Linked DNA regions of Homo sapiens: region 1 is linked to region 2. The links come from fine-mapping of genetic effects on gene expression. A gene starts in region 2. The other region holds a variant in brackets. All regions are shown on one strand. Distances are from middle to middle. Region 1 overlaps RASGRF2 (Ras protein specific guanine nucleotide releasing factor 2). Region 2 holds the start of RASGRF2 (Ras protein specific guanine nucleotide releasing factor 2).

Region 1 (2,729 bases), 250 kb after region 2:
ATGTATGAGATTCAGGGCCAAAAGTGTCTGAGGAAAGTCCATCTGGAATGCAAGGGGGAAGAAGCTATCTGCTGGCTCCTGCCTGGCATTGTTCAGAGTCTTGCCACATAGGAACCCCCTGTGCTTCTGGTCTACGTAAGCTTGAGAAAGGGGTGGCCCTGCGTCTCCTGCCTCTGTGAGGGCAGGGAAAGCCCACGGTAGGGGATAGAGGTGTGGGGAGGAGGGCACTCAGGCCTAGGAGTCCAACTGGCTGATAGCATTAGAGGATGCTCCATTTTACATTATGGATGGTAACTCAGAGCTCACCCAGCTCACCCTCAGACTCACTGTGACGGTGGTTGTTTCATTTACAACCTTGTATGTAACAGGTTGCCTTTTTGTTCTAAATCAGCTGTCCTGATGATTCTCTCATGCCTTGAGCATGTTTTCTGTTTGGGGATTGCTCATCTCCAGCTCAGCAGTTGGTTGTGCTGCATGGCCTTGTAGACCCAAATCCTCAGACCTCCCATCCAGGGAAAACCAAACTGCATTTGTAGTTTTGTTCCTAGGTTGTCTATTTTTTCTTTCATGGAGGATAATTTGATATCTTTTTCAGGGCCCTTTCACAAGATGACCAAGATGACATCCACCTAAAATTAGAGGATATAATTCAAATGGTAAGTCTGACCACATTTTTATCTAGCACAACTATGTGCAAACTACCTCTCCAAGGCGAGCAATATGCTTGTAACCGATCAAGGAGTGTTGTAGTATTAGGCCCTCTGTCCTATCTGTGAAGCTCTGTGAGATGAACCACATTTGGTGTGGGGTCTAGCAGTTGGTCTAAGATATTCATGTTGGCTTTGATACTTTTAGCTTTCTGCCATTTTTTTCATAGTTAGAATTTAGTGGTGAACTTCATGCTTCCACACATGCAGCTGTCTGCCTCACTGACCTGCAATGAGATGGCAGGCGCCCTCTCCTGGGTGTTTCATTTCCCTCCCTCATCTCTTGCAGACTGACTGCATGAAGGCCGAATGCTTTGAGTCCTTGTCGGCCATGGAGCTGGCAGAACAGATCACCCTCCTGGACCATGTCATTTTCAGAAGCATTCCCTACGAGTGAGTGCCACCCCCCACAGCAGCAGGGCTCGGCTGCTCTAGCTGTCTTAGAAGTTGACATTATTCCTAAGGCAGGTTGTGTGTATGTCTGTCCCCTCAGTTCCTGTGTGAGTATCTACCAGTTGTTTCCATCCATGGAACTGGCACGCCTCTGTGTCCAGCACTCTGCAGGATGGGAGCAGGACCAACAACAGCAAGGGACAAAGAACCCTGCCCAGGGACTTAGTCAACCTGAGTATCAGAGTAATTTCGAGTGTTTTTAATGACTATACAAAATAATTCCTGTATGCTGCATCTCACTTGTC[C/T]CTTGTTTCTTGCTGTGTCTGGTGACCTGCTCAGGAATGAAGTGAATGATCAGGAATGCTGCCCTGAAGACAGCCCATCTGACCAGGTGGAGCTTCTGCCCCGCTGAACTGCCTGGTCAGGGCAACATGCGGTACAAGCCTAAAAGGAGCGCTTTTCAGCCCTGACCACCTGCGCCCTCCTGAGCGCTGGGGAGAACAAAACGCAATCCCTGCCTTTGAAATCTGCATCCTCCAGGAGAATGGCAGGCAGCGCAGAGTGGAGGGAGAAAATTCTGCTTCTGACTAACATTTTTGGTAGTGATGAAATTTTTGGACCCTCTGCTAAGGCTTAATGTTTTTAAAAGCTAATCCTGGGAAAATAGTCTTGATTTCTAAGGTAGTACTTAACCTCTTTATTTCCCTTGTGTTGGTTCTTGTTTTCCAACTTCAGAGAAGGCTTTATAGGATCCTAATAGGGACACAGTTCCAAACATTTATAAGAGAAAGCTGGAAGCTGAAGAATCTTCCTTTTTGGCATTGAGAGGTAAACTGCAACAGCCGAGGTAAAATTCACTTGTGAGGCTGGCAGCAGCAGGTGTCAGGAACCATTCTAGGCCATGTCAAATGGAATTTTTCTAATATTCGTGACAACTGTCCAGGATCATAGCCACCATATTTTTAAAAACTTAATTGGTTTTGTGTTTTGTTTTGAACTTCCAGGGAGTTTCTTGGGCAGGGGTGGATGAAGCTGGATAAAAACGAAAGAACTCCTTACATTATGAAAACCAGCCAACACTTCAATGACGTGAGTAACCGTAACAGTAAAACCGTGGGCGTGTCACAAGAAGATGGATATTGGGGTCTAAAGACTCCTCTAAAACAAAGCAACTCTGTCACCCACTTTTTTTTTTTTTTTTTTTTTTTTTTTTTTTTTTTGAGACAGAGTCTCGCTCTGTCGCCCAGGCTGGAGTGCAATGGCGTGATCTCAGCTCACTGCAACCTCCACCTCCCTGGTTCAAGCAATTCCCCTGCCTCAGCCTCCCGAGTAGCTGGGATTACAGGTGCATGCCATCATGCCTGGCTAATATTTTTGTATTTTTAGTAAAGGGGTTTCACCATGTCGGCCAGACTGGTCTCGAACTCCTGACCTCAGGCAATCTGCCTGCCTCAGCCTCCCAAAGTGTTGGGATTACAGGCGTGAGCCACCGCACCTGGCCTGCCACCCACTTTTAAACAGAATTGATGGGATATTGACGACAAGCTTAAATCTCTAAGAGCTCACAGTAATGTAATAATGTCCAATTAACTTCCTGACATAAAAGGTTCACCTTTGATGGTACCCAGT
Region 2 (3,032 bases):
CTCTTGGTTTTCTGGTTGTACCTGTCAGATTTGTTAATCAAATGAATCCAGTCCTACAAACGATGAGCCTGTGACAGCTGGCCTTTGGGGTTGGATTCTGCCCTGGGCAGCAAAGTGTCCCTTATTTGGGTATTTTTTTCCAGGTTGAAAACTCGGCACTTAAAATTTAGCATCTTACCACTGTGAAATAACAGGCATTCCGAAAGAACTTCGGCATCTGATGCCTTTCCGGGAACACTTGGGCCACTCTCCTTAACCTTTACCGGCAGTTTTAAATACTACAATGCAGGTACAAGCAGAAAAGCCAAGGATGCGGGCTATGCAAAGCCACTCTGTGACTCTACCTACTGCCATGGGAACGTACTTATGGATGTGGCATGTGAGTGTGTGTGTATGTGTGAGTGGGTTTGTGAAAGTGTGTGGATTCGTGCGAATACGTGTGTGAGTGCTTTGTGTGTATTTTTGGATGAATTTGTGAATGTACATGTGTGTTCATCTGTGTGTGTGTTTGATTATCTGCTTATGAGTCTGTATGATTGTGAACGTGTGAGTATATGTGTGCTGTTTGTGTGACTGTATGAGTGTAATGTGTGTATGAATGTATGTTTGAATGTGGGTTTGAGTGAATGTGTGGGTTGTGTGTGAATGTGTGTGTAAGTGAGCATATCACTGCGTGCATGTGTGTAGCTCCTTAAGTGTGTATCTGAATGTGGGTTTTATTTTTGTGCGCGGGAACGCACATTGTGGGTGTATTTGTCTATATGCATTTGTGCGTTGTGACTGTGTGTTGAGTGTGAGCGTTGTGAGAATGTGTATTTGTGTGTCATGAGTGTGTGCGCGTGTGTTTTTGTGCATATGTGCGCGCATTGTGTTTGTGTGCATTTGTGAGTGTATTTTTGTGCGTCTGAGTGTGTGCATTGTGGATCTGGGTGAATGTACTGGTCTGCGTGTGTGTGGGTGTGCGTGTGTGTGTGCGCGCGTTGTGCGCGAGTGTGCGAGCGCGTGTGAGCGGGTGTGTGGTGCGGCCGGGCGCCTCCACCTCCCTGATCCGCCCCATCCCGGCGGGCGCCCGAGCAGAGGCAGCGGCCCGGGCCGGGGCGGGCGAGGGAGGGACGCGAGCCGGGGCAAGCGGGCTGCGCCACCGCCGGCGCCGCGCCGACTTTGCCCTTTAAATCGGTCTCCAAGCCGATTACAGCTGAGCTCCCACGTGACGTTTTACCTTCTGTCTCCCGGAGCGCGTTGCCCGAGGACAGTCCTTCCCCGGCTGCCGCCCCAGCCCGCCGCGGGGGCTCGGCTCCCGCAACTTTGGGCGAAGCGGCGGCCGGCTCGGGCGCCCTCGCGGGGCCGCGCTCCACGCGGGCGTTGGGGGCTTGGGGGGCTCCGGGGGCTCGGCCGGGAGGGTGGTGGTTAGGGCGGAGAGCGTGCCTCGGCCCCAGCCCGCGCCCCTGCCACCGCGCGCCGCGGCCTCCCGAAAGCGGGCGGGGTGCCCTGCGCGCGGCGTGGGGAAAGGGGGCGCCCTTCGCCGGCCGGGACCTGAGCGGTCGCGCCCTCGAGGGAGCCAGCTGGGCCATGGCCGCGAGGCAGGGGTGAGACCGGCGGCCACCCGTGAGCCCTCCGCACCCGCACCATGCAGAAGAGCGTGCGCTACAACGAGGGGCACGCCCTGTACCTGGCCTTTCTGGCGCGCAAGGAGGGCACCAAGCGCGGCTTCCTGAGTAAGAAGACGGCCGAGGCGAGCCGCTGGCACGAGAAGTGGTTCGCCCTCTACCAGAATGTGCTCTTCTACTTCGAGGGCGAGCAGAGCTGCCGCCCGGCGGGCATGTACCTCCTGGAGGGCTGCAGCTGCGAACGAACGCCCGCGCCACCCAGGGCCGGCGCCGGGCAGGGAGGCGTCCGAGACGCGCTGGACAAGCAGGTACCGCGCGCCTTCTCTCCGCGGTCTCCCAGCCTTGATCGCCGCACTCCCTTGCCGTCCTAATCCGGGGATCAGGGGTCGGGGGTCGTGAAAGAGTGCGGGGACTATGCTCCGAAATCCCCCCGCGTCACCAGTGGCGGGACATCTCCACGCTCCTTCCGATCTTCATCCAGGGATTCTCCCATCTCCATACCCCTCCACCCCACTGCCAAGTGATCAGTCAGAATAGTGGCCCGACTTGCTTTCATTACCCTGGTAGAGGTCGAGTCGTTTCAGCTTCTCTGCCAACCATCTATTGCTTCTCTAGACCTGGCTCGCCAGATTTTTGTCTGGTGACATGTATTGACACCTGTTGGGTGTAGATTGGCAAGACGGAACTAACTTATTTGGAAAAGTTTGATTTCTGCCATACCCGGCTGGCGCGTGTAGATTTCTTTGCCTGCAGATGTTTGACCACTGGTTGGGCTGGGAACAAGCGGGGCTCCCAAGCCGGACAGACACTTTCTGTTGGTCATTTTCAATCAGTCTTTGTGATTTCGGTCAGTTGGCCTTGCTAACATTTGACCTGCTGGGTGTAATTATGAAGGTAAATGTGTATTCATATTCCTCAGGATTAATATTTGGTAGCCACATTCTTGCTATGTTTAAAAATGTGGGCATTTTTAAAGAACGCTTCTGTACTTTTAAATGAATGCTTTGAAAATGAATGCGACCTTTTAATTCTGGGTCATAATTTTATTAGTTTTGCTGTGTGCTCATGGTCGCGGGGTGGGGGAGAAAAACCCTTTAAGTCTTAGTGATCCCAGCCCCTCATTCCTGCAAACACAAAGTTTGTATGTTTCCAATCACCGTTTGGTTATTAAAGTTAAAGCAGACTAATTTTATGCCCCTAATGTTCTCATTTAGCTTCTCAATCCCCACCTTGATATGAAAAAGGCTGATTGTTTTTGCTGTTGCGTAAAAATATTCGCAGCTGAATTTTCCATGTGAGTTCAGATCAGACAGCATCTACCGCACACCACAGAGGCTGTGGGAGGTGCTAGCAATGGAGTGATCCGTAAGATGCCTACCTAACCCTTTGGGGCTCATAAAACAATGTGTAAAATTAAGAGGAGTT

The links. PIP is the estimated chance that this variant, and not a neighbour inherited with it, causes the effect.
Region 1: its variant is fine-mapped to the expression of RASGRF2 in whole blood (TOPMed, PIP above 0.99).

Annotation. Positions count from the first base shown.
Region 1 is chr5:81,206,250-81,208,978 of GRCh38, forward strand. RASGRF2 (Ras protein specific guanine nucleotide releasing factor 2) reads left to right here. Exons shown (of 27, transcript NM_006909.3): 20 at 596-656; 21 at 997-1,100; 22 at 2,105-2,189. LOC124901017 (a long non-coding RNA gene) reads right to left here. Exons shown (of 2, transcript XR_007058842.1): 2 at 1-2,729. Among named protein-coding and RNA genes, the nearest start is that of CKMT2, 26 kb to the right of the region's middle. The variant C/T (reference allele first, on the strand shown) is at 1,406.
Region 2 is chr5:80,959,112-80,962,143 of GRCh38, forward strand. RASGRF2 (Ras protein specific guanine nucleotide releasing factor 2) reads left to right here and starts at 1,252. Exons shown (of 27, transcript NM_006909.3): 1 at 1,252-1,915. The coding sequence starts at 1,628. It overlaps RASGRF2-AS1 (RASGRF2 antisense RNA 1), which reads right to left and starts at 1,796. Exons shown (of 4, transcript NR_105015.1): 1 at 1,670-1,796. RefSeq lists an enhancer at 1,355-2,076.